Homo sapiens: one gene and its partners. The protein of the gene in region 1 purifies or fractionates together with the protein of each later gene. This does not show direct contact. Each region holds a gene or a part of one and is shown on either strand. Other genes may lie near its edges. The genes, in order: DPYSL5, SAMTOR, RIMS1 and PHAX.

What was found.
Region 2: the proteins of DPYSL5 (region 1) and SAMTOR purify together in Homo sapiens (co-immunoprecipitation; one large-scale study listed by IntAct). This does not show direct contact.
Region 3: the proteins of DPYSL5 (region 1) and RIMS1 purify together in Homo sapiens (co-immunoprecipitation; one large-scale study listed by IntAct). This does not show direct contact.
Region 4: the proteins of DPYSL5 (region 1) and PHAX fractionate together in Homo sapiens (co-fractionation; one large-scale study listed by BioGRID). This does not show direct contact.

What each region holds. Positions count from the first base shown.
Region 1 is NC_000002.12:26,846,652-26,851,180, reverse strand, and holds the start of DPYSL5 (dihydropyrimidinase-related protein 5), read right to left. Parts: upstream 3,050-4,529; 5' UTR 2,927-3,049; exon of another isoform or gene 2,684-2,926; intron 1,776-2,683; exon of another isoform or gene 1,681-1,775; intron 1-1,680. UniProt on the Homo sapiens protein: Involved in the negative regulation of dendrite outgrowth.
Region 2 is NC_000007.14:112,818,378-112,821,783, forward strand, and holds the end of SAMTOR (S-adenosylmethionine sensor upstream of mTORC1), read right to left. Parts: coding exon 3,367-3,406; 3' UTR 770-3,366; downstream 1-769. UniProt on the Homo sapiens protein: S-adenosyl-L-methionine-binding protein that acts as an inhibitor of mTORC1 signaling via interaction with the GATOR1 and KICSTOR complexes.
Region 3 is NC_000006.12:72,400,345-72,403,731, reverse strand, and holds the end of RIMS1 (regulating synaptic membrane exocytosis protein 1), read right to left. Parts: intron 3,237-3,387; coding exon 3,018-3,236; 3' UTR 587-3,017; downstream 1-586. UniProt on the Homo sapiens protein: Rab effector involved in exocytosis. May act as scaffold protein that regulates neurotransmitter release at the active zone.
Region 4 is NC_000005.10:126,624,888-126,627,984, reverse strand, and holds the end of PHAX (phosphorylated adapter RNA export protein), read right to left. Parts: 3' UTR 733-3,097; downstream 1-732. UniProt on the Homo sapiens protein: A phosphoprotein adapter involved in the XPO1-mediated U snRNA export from the nucleus.

The DNA of each region.
Region 1 (4,529 bases):
TTGTTCCCTTTGGGTAATAATATGAAAACATGTTTCCCATTGGAGCTCTCTTACAAGAAAAAACCTTCACTGTCAGATTTCTAGGTTTCTAATATTGAGATTCCTAGTATTTATGTACTCTGAATCCATGTTTGTGTGTATGCATAAATACACACATGCATATATAATTTAGTAAAATATAGTATGTGTATATATATATGTGTGTATATACATATTAATATATACATATATATAATTCAGTTAAAATATAGTTAAAAACAACCAATGAGCAATGTTCCAGCTAGTCCTTCCAGATCAGTTTTGTAAATTCTGTGAGGCACCTCCTCAAAACACCATCCTTTAAAACCAGCAAGACATAGCCTACTGCTGACTCCCTATGGCCAGAAAGGACACTCAGACAAGAGGCCTTCACTTTGACAGCTATCATCTGTCCTGGGCAAAAGCCAACAGCCACAGCACAGTCCTTCACCTTACACACTAATCTTGTTAAGAAAGCAAATCCTGAGATTTCAAGGCTGGGTTAAGAGAACCAACAGGTTCTCAGTTAACTTAGTGGCAAATGTAAGTGGCATCAATGAGTTCTACAATGCCAAGTATCGCCCAGTCTGGGAACAAAAACATTCCTGCCTTTTTTTTTAATGAATGGCAATTTAAAATGATAACTTTATGCTAAAGATTCACCTTTAACTTGTCATCTAACCAGTTATCAAAGCAACAGTGCAACACAGAATTCTGGCTTTGGGTGTCACTTCACATGTCAAGGCGCTGCAGCGGTGACTTGCAAGGTGTTTAGACGGCGGGCGAGAGGCTGAGTGCGTGGAAAGCCCTGCTGAAAGCCTGTTTTAAGCTTCCATTCGGTTCATCTGCTTTCCCACGGGCAAGCAGCGCCTATCACAGAGCTACCCCAGTCTTAGGTCAGCAGACAATATGGGCGAAGTCTGCAAGAGACGCACTGGCTTGGGTGTGGTCACTGGCAAAGAAAAGCACTGGACCCCTAGCAGCGGCTCCCAAACCTAGAGCCTCACCCTTGCGGGATCATTTCCACCCGCTTCTCCGCAATTTGACCACAATCCGCACCAGCCCTTACGGCTCCCCCTGAGAAAGCACAGCTGCAGCCCCTAGACTACGGCCGCCTCGGCAGACAAAGCCGCTGCTCGGGGGAACCCGCGCTGCACCGAGGCGACCTCCAGTCTTTGGCACCTGCGTCGCCGCCCGGCAGCTCCGCGCCGCTAACCACGCCGCGTCTCGGCAGCGGGTGGACAGCGCGGGGCGGGCGGCGGCGCTGCACCAGAAGGCACCCGAGCCGGAGTGGGGGGGTGGCTGTCTGCAGGCCCCCAGGCCGGGGGAGCGCCTCCCACACGGGATTCCCGGCGTGGCCAGGCCCCCATAAAACCCCAAAGCCAGCACGTGCCCGGAGGTTCCGCAGGGAGTATTCCCAGCACCAGAAAACTGCACCCTCGCGTCCTGGGTGGCCCTGGTTTGTCGTCGGATGGACACCAGGGTCGGCTATTGTTCTCCGGGTCTCCCCGAAGGGAGATCCGCCTCCCTGGCAGCACCTGCTGCTGGGCAAAGCCTTTCAGCTCCTCGAGAAAAGGGCGTGCCGTGGGCGCCGCGGAAGATCACAAAACCCTAAGCGAGTCGCTACCGGCTGGTTTCAAGCCTGGAGACAAAGCTCCTCACCAAGCCAGCCCAGCCCGGTCCCGGATCTGCCATCCTGGGTCCCTAACCCCGGTCCGAGGGCCACGCCCAGCCGGCCACCTGGGCCGCGGGGCCCCGCGCCTGGAGCTGAGGATCCTCGGGCCCGAGACCGCCTCTCAGCTGCTTGCCCCTCCCTCCTCGGGAGGCTCCCCTTCCCAGGAGGCCCCCCTCCCCCGCACAGCGCGGGTCTTCTCCTCGCTCCCGTCCTCCCTCCTCAAACCCAGGCGGCCTCCACCCGCCTGCATCCCTCCTCCCCTCCCCATTCTTCAGCAGAACCAGCCTCGCCGGGCGCCACCTGCACCGAGCTCCTTCCCTCGTTCTTCGGACCCGCCCCCGCCCCTTCTCTTTCCTCCTCAAACCCTAGTTCCCACTCCCTGCTCCCCGAGACCCACTACCTGTCCTAACCCAGCTCCCCAGCCTTCCCCATCCCCATCTTTTCTCAACCGAGGCCTCCCCTCGCCCTCTCCCGGCTTCTCTCCAGCTCAGACTACAGCCCCGTCCCCAGGCCCGGGGCGTCGACGTCGGTGCCCGCTGAGATCGATGCTGCAAGGCGGGCTCCCGCGCTGGGCTCCAGCCGAGGGACCCGGCTCGGCGCCCGCTCCGGGCTGGGCAGCCGCAGGAGGCCTTTGTGGCTCAGGCGGGAGGCTCGGAGGCGGCGGGCGAGTCCTCTGCAGGCGTCCGCTCCGTTAGCCGGGCGGTGGAACAGACCGCCGGGTCGGGTCCAGGCTGGGCAGATCCCAGCTCGGAGGCGAGAAGGACGGAGGGTGTGTATCTGGGTGGTGTGTGGGACCGGGGACAGCGCAGATCCTGGGACCGGCAGGACTGGCCCCCGGCCAGAGGCGCCCCCGCCCAGCCCTCCAGCGGTCCACTGCACCGCGCCCGGCTAGGAAAGCGGCCCACTGCGTGCTAGGCGCGAAACCCCTCGGCCGAGCCGCCTCCTCACCCCAGGGCTTTGCAACCCCGCGAGCACGCATTAAACGCTTACTATGAGCAAGGCCCGGCACGGCGCTTCGCGGGCGTACAAAGAGGACCCCAAGAGCGCCCCGGCTTAGCCCCGATGGCCACCTCCCAACCCCAAACCACACCTCCCGCCGCGTCCCCTGCGGCCGGGCCCCAGGCTCACCCGGCTCCCCGCCCTTTTGTGCGCCTCACGCAGAAACAGAAGGGGGAGAGGAGGATGTCCTAGCCCGGGAGGGGTAAGCCCACCGACCCCCCTGCCATCACCCACTCCTCCGAGATGCTGCGGCCGCGGGGGCCCGTGGCTCGGTCCGTCTCCGTCTCGCCGCGGCGCCGGAGCTGCGGGTGCTCGGGGCGGCGGCGGCTGCACGCGCGCTCGCTCGGGGGCCGCCTCAGCGCGCCCAGCGCGGGAGTCCAGAGTGGGGAGCGGGGGAGGGGCGCGTGTCGGGGGCTGGGAGCGGCCTCCGCCAATCACCGCGCGGCCGGCTCCTCCCGCCGCTCCCCACCTCAGCTAGCAGGTTAAGGGGAGGCGGGGACAGGCGGCGTCCCGCATCCTTGGCGCCGCGCGCCGCCGCCGCCTGGGGACTACAACTCCCGGCAGGCCCTGCTGCAGGGCCGGGGTCCGAGAGCGGACGGAGGGCGCGGCCGGAGAACTCACCGACCCCCCTAGCACCCGGCTCCGCGTTCCCTCGGGTTTCCATGGCGACTCAGGACACCACAAAGCCTGGACGCGCTGAGGCACGGGTCCCCAGGGAGGGCCGGGGGCGGTTCCGGAGGACACCCCGCCTCCCCTCCCCCAGCTGGATCCCACCCCAGGGGCTGAAACAATGCCGCGGCCGCCTCTCCCGGGCTGCGGCCGCGCTGCCCTCCGCCGCAGGACCCCGCCGAGGCCGCCTGGTTCGCGCCAAGACCCGCTCCGACGCCCGCGGGATTGCGGGATGCAAAGGGCCGGGTGGGCGTTATAGGAAAACTGTTCTCATGAACAAAGTGGACGGCCACTTGGGGCCACCGCAGTTCGCATCTGCACCCGGGGAGGTCTCGAACCCGGAGTGCGTTCTCTCCACTGAGAAGATTTTGCCCAGCGCCACGCGGGTGCTTCCCTGTCCAGAGCGCTCAGGCCCAGTGCCTGTCTTATTTCTGGCTTCTGTCAAGGGACAGCGAAGCCTTTGGAAATTATTTATAACCCAATTTACATTCGCTTCACCTGTTTCTTCATGTTTAAATACATACATAATTTACCAAAATAAACAAATCTAAAAAAGGAGAGGAAGGATCATCCCCGGTTTGTCCCACCTCCCTAGCTAATCCCGGTTCAAGCCTTTGCCATTGATCTGTGTTATTTTCTGCAGTTGTAATAATAGTTTGGATTAGTCATTTGCCTCTTTGCACTTAATGTCACTCCAAAGGCGTTGCGATGCGCGTTAAAATGCAGCATCAAGGACCTCCAAGCTGCAGCTGCAGAATCCCTCCCTCCCCGGGCTCCCCGGCGATCCGGTGGGGAGAGGAGTCCCCTGGCAGCCATGGCCTCGTGAGGTGGTTCTCTTTGCAGGATACTTTCAAACAAAATGGTGTTCACTACTCCGGGGGCGTGGAGGGGGTCCCCTCTCCCCATCTCAGCAAAATCTACCCGGGCGCAGGACCCGCAGAGCCCGCCAAGGCGGGGTTCCCTGCCGTCCTTCCCCAGAGAGCTTAGGGCCTGGACCAGGCCAGGCTGGCCTTTGAGGGATGCATTTCTGGATTACCCCACCCCTGAGTCTGCACTCCTTCTCCCCTTCCCAACTCCCGCCTGCTTGGTAAGCAGAGAGCAGGGAGCCCCCAGAGGAACCTCAAAGCATCCCTAACCCAGTGCAGCCCGGGATGTGGCTGTGAAAACT
Region 2 (3,406 bases), on another chromosome or scaffold:
GGAATAGCATTGCTGCATAGTGCTCAGAAAGTGTGGGAAAACGGAACAAAAAGCTTGAATCCATTTTTTTTTCTGCTTTTACATCAGAATTTATATTTAGGTTATACTTTCCTAGAGGAATGAACAATACATCTCTCTTATCCACAATGTGTAATTTGCTAGTTTTGTGTTTAAAGCTTTTCTTATTTCCTGTTCTACTTCTGTGAATTAAGGATTTTAAGCAGGGGCAAAACTGTAGCATCAGCAGGTAATCATTCTTGGATACAGATACTAAGTACATGTAGCATGCTTGTCTTCACTCTTAGGTCATAAGCTCCATGAGAGCAGGGGACAATGATCACTCCAATCCTTGCTGCTTTCCCAGCATATAGCACATGGCAGAATTCAAACATTTGTTTAATAAACAACAACAACAAAAAACCTTTCATATCATGAGGAAGACATCTGCTGTCCTGAAAGAGCTGATAAATTATGTAGCTTACTTAAAAAAAAAAAAAGAATATGATATGGTTGACATACAATAAAGTAGAATTTATGCTGTTGCCCTGCTTCTGCCATAAACATGACAAAACATGACAATGGGAAGTCACCTGAGTTCTCTGGATCTCAGTGAATAAATTTATGACATTAAGGGATTTAACAAAAATGAAACCCAGTGGGAAAATTGTACAAGTCACTCAAGTTCTAAATTGCTTCCCAATGCTGAAATCACTTAGTGAGATACATCAAAGACCACAGAACTTTCGGTTTACAAGTAACAGACAAAGAATACTAGAAAATTTAAAATTTTTAATAAATGTGCTTTGTTCACAAAATGTGAAAAAATACAACAAACACACACGTACATTTTCAGGTATGCTACCTCCCACCACTTGGCAACTATGGTAAAACCACATGATCTAGTCATGATACTGAAGAATCCAACCAAATGATTACCATTTGTTTTTGAAACAACCAAATTATTTTGGAGAACCAGCTGTGAATGTGACAGGAGGCCTCATAACTTCTTTATATCCAAAATGAAATAATTCTTAGGAGTACCCATACAGTATTAGAAGGCCCTATTAACTTCCACTTGTTATTACATACATGATCTGGCATCAAGCTGCAATGACTGCTTATACTTCAATACTTATACACTGAATTGGTTTTTGTGGAATGTGTATCAGTTTAAATCTGTGCCAACCTAATTGGAATAAGCTGAATTTACAGTAACAAATGATATAAATTCAAACAAATTTATACTAAGTGGTAGTAGGTTTTATAAAGAGACTTCCTCAGAGTACTACGTAAAATACATCATGCACACTTTGGAGCATAAGCAGAATCAACATCTGTAAACAATCAGAATTTATAGCACCAACATTTTCGCTGTAACACAAAGGCTGACTCCAGGGTCATACTATACCAGCCTTTCAAAAGCGCTGTTTTCATTTACTTTCAAAGCATTTTCATTTGGTGTATTGTTTTCTTTGCTCTTAAGATATTTACCCAAATCAAAAAGCAAACAGTATGGTAAAAGGTACTACCAAAATAGTTCAAAAGAGTTCTGTATTATCCTTAACATAGTGCTTTTTTTTCCTTCCCCTTCTCTTGGGGAAGCTACAAGACATAATCCTTCAGTGCTTAACTGGAAAGAACAGTCAATCCTAAATATTAAAGAATCTTATGCTGTTGAAAGTAAATGAAAAATTTCGAGTTATTTGTGGCATATTTGAGCAACCAATATTTATTGCATTTAATCAACTGACTTTAAAAAATTACAATCTTGTTACTTTCATTAATTTAGCATGTGAAATTTAATTAGAAATACTGGGTACATACACTCAACCATTTATATCATAAAGGATAAGTTTTATATTTCTAAATAAAGTTTGACATTCAAAGGTACTACGGCAATTCACAATAAGCACAAAAACATCAGCTTTACCAGAGTAAAGAAGTGCAGTTTATGAAATTTAGGATCAACTATTGAAAATGCAAGTTTCCTTTAAAAACATACAAACATACGCACAACATTAACCATGAAATCTGAAACTGTGATATTTCAGTGCAAAAACCTCAGTATGAGGTAATTTTAATGTAATAACCACTTGAAAAAAAAATCCACACAGTGGCACTCTTAAAAATGATAGCTTCCATGACAATTGCTGGCTGACAAGACAATGTGGACTAAATGTTCTTAACTGTTTAAACTAATCTTGTCTTGTTTGGACATATATTTTTCCCTAATCATTTGCTTCTGATTCAGAAACACAGAAAGGCATTTATTAATGTGGAAAGGGAAAATTCCCACAGCCAACTAATTGATATATTCAAAGAAAATTTTCTGATAAAGTTTAGATAGAAATTAAGATACCAAAAGGTCAAAACCATTTTATGAGATCACCAACAGAGGGTTAATTTTAGGTTTTTCCATATAATTTGAAACTTGTAGTGCGGCACCTCCTTAACGGAAAGGTGAGGACCCTATCAAAGTTGGTTTCAACAGAACATAAACTCTCTTCCAAGTGCAAACCCTTTCAAAAAGGTGTTTTAGGTCATTATTGAGTATTACATTGTTCCTTGCTTAAATAAAACATTTTGTAAATGAAGCCTAAGTTTAAGAAAAGTAAAAGTGAACTCTCAGGTAAATATACTTCACACCAAGGCCCAAATCAACAAGAAAGTTATGAAAATACTACTTTGGCAATGGTGTTTATTGGATAGGGCTAATAAAATTAGAATACACACTTTGGGGGACATCTCTCCCCCAATGTCTGATGCTGTCAAATGAGCTTTTAATATAAGGAAGAAATAAAAAGAATTATCACCAATTACAAAAAGTTCAGTAAATATTGGATCATCAGACAAAAAAGGAACATAAAATGACTTTCTGTAACATCACAATTTTAGTTAGAAAAAAGAAAAAGATAAGTGCATCACAAAACAACTAACCGATCTATTTTTCTGTATCACATTTAACTTGTGAGTCATCAAAGTGCAATCTACAGCTTTCTACATCTTAAAGTTTTCCATTCAATGGTTTATAGTCAACACTGAAAAGTTGAAAAGGAAAACATATAGCAAATTATGCTTGTTTTCACAATAGCACTAAAGAGAAAAAGGTACCTTTCTATGATAGTGCTAAATGCTAAAGTAACAGTAGTTTCTGCTATGACATGAGTCACTCTGCATGAAACTTTAAGCTTTCTATATAAGAATAAATTTTAAAATTGAGAAGTAGAAAAAAATAGCAAACTCTGTAAACCTCTGCATTTCTTTTATGCAAACCAGGTTTTCAGTACTGAGTTCATGTTAGTATTTCCAATTGGTGTAAGCAATTAGTTTAGGAGCCTGGACTGAAAGGGGCTTTTTGCTTCTATATTAACTTAAAAGTAATATGGGGTCTTCTAGCTCATAGAAA
Region 3 (3,387 bases), on another chromosome or scaffold:
GTAGACCAAACAAATGGATGATTTAATAGGGTAAAATTCAGTCAACTGTTTAAAAACTATAAATAACTGATGCATTCATGTCTCCAAACTCTTTATTGCCTCAAATTTTATGTTGATGTAACTGTGTTTACTTTGCTTTACAAGTTAAAGCCAGCGTGGTCTATAAAAAGTTAAGAGCTCTTAGAAAGACAAGACTAGATCACAAAAGTTATTTTACTACAATGCAAGATGAAAGTAGTGCTTACCAAGTGTTTCATGAGAGGCGATGATTATTAAATACATGAGCACACTTTCAGGTAAGAAAAAATAATAAAATAACCTAAAAAGTTAATAATGTCTCTTTGAATATATTATTTTGGATATCTATCTATATTTGAAGATACTTTTATTATCTAAGATTCTATTAAAGATAATTCAGTGTAAATGTAGTGCTTATTTTTTGTTAAATTGGTCTCCTCTAAACCAAAGTTATATAAATTAGTCATGGGTTCAGAAGAAAAAGATGGAAAGAGGAAATATACTATGACGAGAGACGCAGGAATCAATTTTTTGATATGTCACGTAACTTGAAATAATTTGGCAATTGGACAATAGAGTTGTCTCTTTTATTAGCACATTCAAACAGCAGCAGAAAACAACCTTCCATTTGATTCTTACTGAGATTTATTATTTTTAATAATGCCACTTTTCAGAAGTATAGTCATGTGCTCACTTAGACAGGCTGACGAAGTGAAAACTTGTATGTGATGCAAAGTACCCTTTGGGCCATCGATTAAGACATAATATAGTGCAGTGACAAGTCAAGTCAAATGCCCGCAGCAGACAACAAACCCCAGCCTCCCCTTCCCATGGCCTGGCTCCCATTTTGCACCATAGAACCCACAATGGAAATCTGGCAAGACATAGAACACATATGGCTACTGACTGACATGAAAAGTAAATTTTATTAAACATGTTTACATACATGAATTGGAATTTCATTTAAAAGCACAGGGGAGTGTTAAGACAAGTGGTCAAAATAGAAAGATACTACCCAATTATAATCAGTTGATTGTTGGCCACTAAGACAGAACGGAATCTAGTAGAAGTGCACCAATGCTTCAGTTCCTCCTACTCAGCATGGTGAGCAGTGGTCAATCTGTGCCCTGTGGAATGATGGGCAGATAATTCTGGCATGTGTAAATAATAATAAATAATTCACTTGGTGCAGGCAGTATGTCTATGAATTAAAACCTAGTGTGTACACAGTGTCTACATGTGTTACAGCCCCACAGTAGGAATCTACACCAAAATATTTATTAGAAGGAATTTGGTCCGTACTACATCACGTTTTCCGGAGGGTAAAAAATAAAGTCCATCTATAGACATTTCACCACAGACCCAGAGACTGAGTCTGGCTAAAACCTGCAAAATGTCTATAACAAAAGTGGATGGCTTAGATTTCTTGGTTATTTCGGTATAGTAATTAACAAGCAAACTGTACAAGTACATGCAACATACAAGCTGGCCTATGTGGAACTAACATACATTATTAAATAACCTTTTGTTTCTTTTCTTTTTAAAATTTTTTTTTTTTACAAAATGTGCATGCAGCTCTGAACAGTTCCAAGTCATGCTGCTCTATTTGTGTAATCACAAAAGTGGAGTGACTCATAAAAGGAGGGAGAACATATCAATGCACCTGCAGAGACTGCAGTTTGTAGCACATGTACAGAATGTCACAAGGGAAATTCAAGGCCAAGAGAAACTAAATGAAAATGCAAATTGAAAGTTCATTTTGTTTATTTTCCCCCCAAAAAGTAAGATACTTTGCATTAAAAAATCAAGCTTTGTGCTTGCATCAATCTCAAAGAAATGTAAACTAAAATTCAATAAAAACAATAGTTTAGTGCAGAATATTTCAACTGGAATTTCCAGTGGAATATTGAACAGCTCATACCATGCTCTTTCCAGGGCAGATGGATGTGTCTACACTGAGGTATGGCTGAGAAGCCTGGGCATAGCTCAAAGTGTCTTAGGCTCAAATCCATTCCTAGTCACCATTTTTGGGAAGTCAAAGTATGGTTTATACACATGAGCATTTTTTTAATATCAGGAAGAAAAAGGCATTACAAGGAGTGTTTTCAAAGTACAATTATGCAGTTAGTTTTAGTCCCCAGCATTAGTTGCAGATTGACTTCTTTAAAAGTCTTCCATGCAAAACAATGGAAACCATAAATTAATTTTCTAGAATGCAAACAGATAGGCTCTTCATTAAAAAAGTACTTCTGTGATTATTTATTTTGGAAGATAACTTTTTGTCTCTTGGGTATCCACACATAAGACTTTAAATAATTATAAAATGAAAGCTAGTGAAACCCTTCCTTGGCTTCACCTTATGTAGCTGTTTAACACTTTGGGGAGATGCTACAGAGACTACTTCAGCCCTTTTTTTTGGTGCTTTTGGAAAAAAGAAGGGAAGAATCTCTGTTAGCATCATGAGGCCTGTCATGACACAGCCAAAAAAAAACTAGTGGAAATAACAGATGTGGTGAAAACAAAACAAAAACTCAAGAAACGAAAACCAACAAACAACACACAAATAAACAAAACACACAAAAGAACAAAACAACTCAAACATCAGGGAAATAACACTGCTTGTGGTCTGTGCAGAAATGTGTAGAATACAACTTTTCACAGAGTGAGAGTTTCCAGTTTGTTCAATTTGGTGTGTGTGTGTGTGCATGTGTGTGTGTACGTGTATGCGTGGATTTAAAGTTTCCTCTTTTTCTATTTGTTAGAAGCATCAGTGACTCTCACCAGCATGTTGATTCTTCCTGTAAATTTGATAGATTGCCTTGTTCTGTCATATGAAGCCATGTTTTAAATAACAATTGGGACATATTATTGAAAAACTACTACAGGCAAAACACAAGTTGATTGTCTGTCTCCAACAATGCTTTCGATCATGAAATATCTGGTTCAGATTATTATCCTGAAAAGTAGAGTTTTATTGGAATGACTCTGGTATGAGTTCACTATGATCGAATACAGGGAGGCCCAGTTGAACTTTCCAGAGATGACTGGGAAGCCCGCCGGGTGAGGGGAGTGAGTGTGGGATCCACCAGTGAGGACGGTGGGAACAATTTGTACCATCCGATCACCATGCTGGACAGGTCGAGTTCTTCCAACAAGATCTGAGCCACACCCATAAAGCATTTGTGGTCCATTCTGCCATAGTCTCCCCAGACAATCACCTGCAGAGATAGAGAAATGCAACATTACCTGGACTTCTCTCTGCTTCACATTCGAAGGGCTCAAAGCAACTATGCTGTAAAAGTGGGCCAGTCAGTGAAGCAGAGGAAAAGAATAATGAATACAACTATCACCAAGGAGAAGGCACAGATA
Region 4 (3,097 bases), on another chromosome or scaffold:
AACTTTGAAAAAAAGAAATAACCTTAAAAATTGAAGCACTGCTTTCTGTATGGCAGTAGGATGCAACACAAGCCAGAAATCTGAGTGGTTTCCAAATGTTAAAGAAACAACTATTGGCTGGGCGTGGTAGCTCATGCCTGTAATCCCAACACTTTGGGAGGCTGAGGCAGGTGGATCACCTGAGGTCAGGAGTTTGAGACCAGCCTGGCCAACATGGTGAAACCCTGTCTCTACTAAAAATACAAAAAAATTAGCTGGGTGTGGTGGCGTGTGCTTGTAATCCCAGCCACTTGGGAGGCTGAAGCAGGAGAATCGCTTGAACTCGGGAGGCGGAGGTTGCAGTGAGCTGAGATGGTGCCATTGCATTCCAGCCTAGGCAACAAAAGTGAAAACTCCGTCTTAAAAAAAAAGAAAAAGAAAAAAAAAAACAACTATTGCTAAAAAACCAGGAAGGTGTGGGGAAGAAACAATCTTGATGAAGATAAAGTAGCTTCAGGCATCAACGCCCTTTAAAAGGCATAACTTTTGCTAGAAAAATTGGCAATATTTACATTAATATGTGGCATTTAAGTATTCAGAATAATTATCTTTCTTAATGTACTATTTCTAAAATCACCTCCCATAAATTGTCTTAGGGTCAATATCCAATTACCTTTTAAAAATATTTTTCTTGGCTATAGCATTTTTATGAAAAAACATTCAAGATTTAAAAATATAATCACTTGAAGCTCATTAAGGACTGCCAAAAATCTAATTTTATTTTTGCATCCTTTATAAATAAAAAGCAACCGATAACCACTTTCCTCTTAGATCCAACTTCAATGACCACATTCTCAGAACTACCAAAAGACTTCAAGTACACTGTCTGTAAGGAACAGTTTATAATTGCTGAATTTTACATTTTTGCTTAATATACAACATTTCTGCTTAATATATCAAGCATATTTTTGCTTAATATATTTTTGTAAACTATAGTTAACTCTTGGAATGTCTAAACTACCTTATTTTCTTCATTAATAAAAATGAGTAATTTAAAACTTCATGCACATGTAACATTTTACTATTATTATTTTTGAGACAAAGTCTTGCTCTGTCACCCAGGCTGGAGTGCAGTGGCACGATCTCGACTCACTGCAACCTCTGCCTCCTGGGTTCAAGTGATTCTCCTGCCTCGGCCTCCCAAATAGCTGAGATTACAGGCATGCACCACAATGCCCGGCTAATTTTTTGTATTTTTTTTTTTTTTTTTGAGAGGGAGTCTCGCTCTGTCGCCAGGCTGGAGTGCAGTGGCGTGATCTCGGCTCACTGCAACCTCCACCTCCTGGGTTCAAGTGATTCTCCTGCCTCAGCCTCCCTAGTAGTTGGGACTACAGGCATGCGCCACCACGCCCAGCTAATTTTTGTATTTTTAATAGAGACAGGGTTTCACCATGTTGGCCAGGATGGTCTCGATCTCTTGACCTTGTGATCCACCCGCCTCCACCTCCCAAAGTGCTGGGATTACAGGTGTGAGCCACCGCGCCCGGCTAATTTTTTGTATTTTTTGTATTTTTAGTTGAGATGGGGTTTCACCATGTAGACCAGGTTGGTTTTGAACTCCTGACCTCAAATGATCTACCTGTCTCAGCCTCCCAGAGTGCTGGGATTACACACATGAGCCACTGCGCCGGCATATGTAACATTTTAAATACCTGACTTCCTTAACATAAGGTAAGACAGTCTTAGGCAGGCTGCCACTGGGAATGTTTTTTTCTTTTTCTTTTTTAAATTAGAGACAGGGTCTCACTACATTGCCTAGATTGGTCTCAAACTCCTGGGCTCAAGCAATCTTCCTCTCTTGGCCTCCCAAAGTGTTGGGATTGCAGGTGTGCGCCACTAGGCCCAGCTTGAAAAATTTTTTAATGCATGTGGTAATCCACAGGAGATCACATTTAGTATATGACCAAGTTAATTAAGAAGTCAAAAAACACGTTAAATTTAAGCAGAATAAGGCTGGGTTCGGTGGCTCATGCCTGTGATCCCAGCACTTTGGGAGGCAGAGGTGGGCAGATCATTAGGCCAGGAGTTCGAGACCAGCCTGGACAACATGGCGAAAGTCTTTACTAAAAATACAAAAATCAGCTGGGCGTGGTGGTACACACCTGTGATCCCAGCTACTCAGGAGGCTTAGGCACATGATCGCTTGAACCTGGGAGATGGAAGCTGCAGTAAGCTGAGATCCTGCCACTGTACTCCAGCCTGGGTGACAGATCAAGACTCTAACTAAAAAACCCCCCAAAAAACAAATAGTTACTTGGAAAACTTCCGACATTTATTTACTTCTGGACAAACAAATGAGTGGGAAGAATCATCAGTATACACCTCTTAATTGTATTTTTTTTTTTTTTTGAGACAGAGTCTTGCTCTGTCGCCCAGGCTGGAGTACAGTGGTACGATCTCAGCTCACTGCAACCTTTGCCTCCCGGGTTCAGGTGATTCTCCTGCCTCAGCCTCCCGAGTAGCCGGGATTATAGGCATGGAGAACCACACCTGGCTAGTTTTTGTATTTTTAGTAGAGATGAAGTTTCACCATGTTGGCCTGGCTGGTCTCAAACTTCTGACCTCAAGTGATCTGCCCGCCTTGGTCTCCTAAAGTGTTGGGATTACAGGCGTGAGCCACCGTGCCTGGCCAATGTTAGTTTTTATCCTTAAAATTGCCTGAGTTCTTAGAACACAGAAAAAACAAATTTGAATGCATTTCTAACAGCTTAATAATTTATATGTCCCATTATGATTTTAGCGGAATGTTTTAAAGCAAAGCATAATTCACTGCAAAGATAAACCTGAAAAAGCAAACAAACTTACAAATGGTATGTTATGACCTAGACAAAACTGATTATCAACTAGTAATACTCATAATTAGCACATGCAACAGATTGAGAAATTAAATCCTGTGCTATATACTCTTAAGTATTTTGTCAGATATATCTTTAAATGTTCTATCAATTGCATTCCTTTCCACACATATTTTAAACAAGAAAACAATTGTCTTTCCTCCAGATTCTCATGTTTATCAGTGCAAAACGTTGCAATCTCAGTAAAAATGGTTTATTACAAT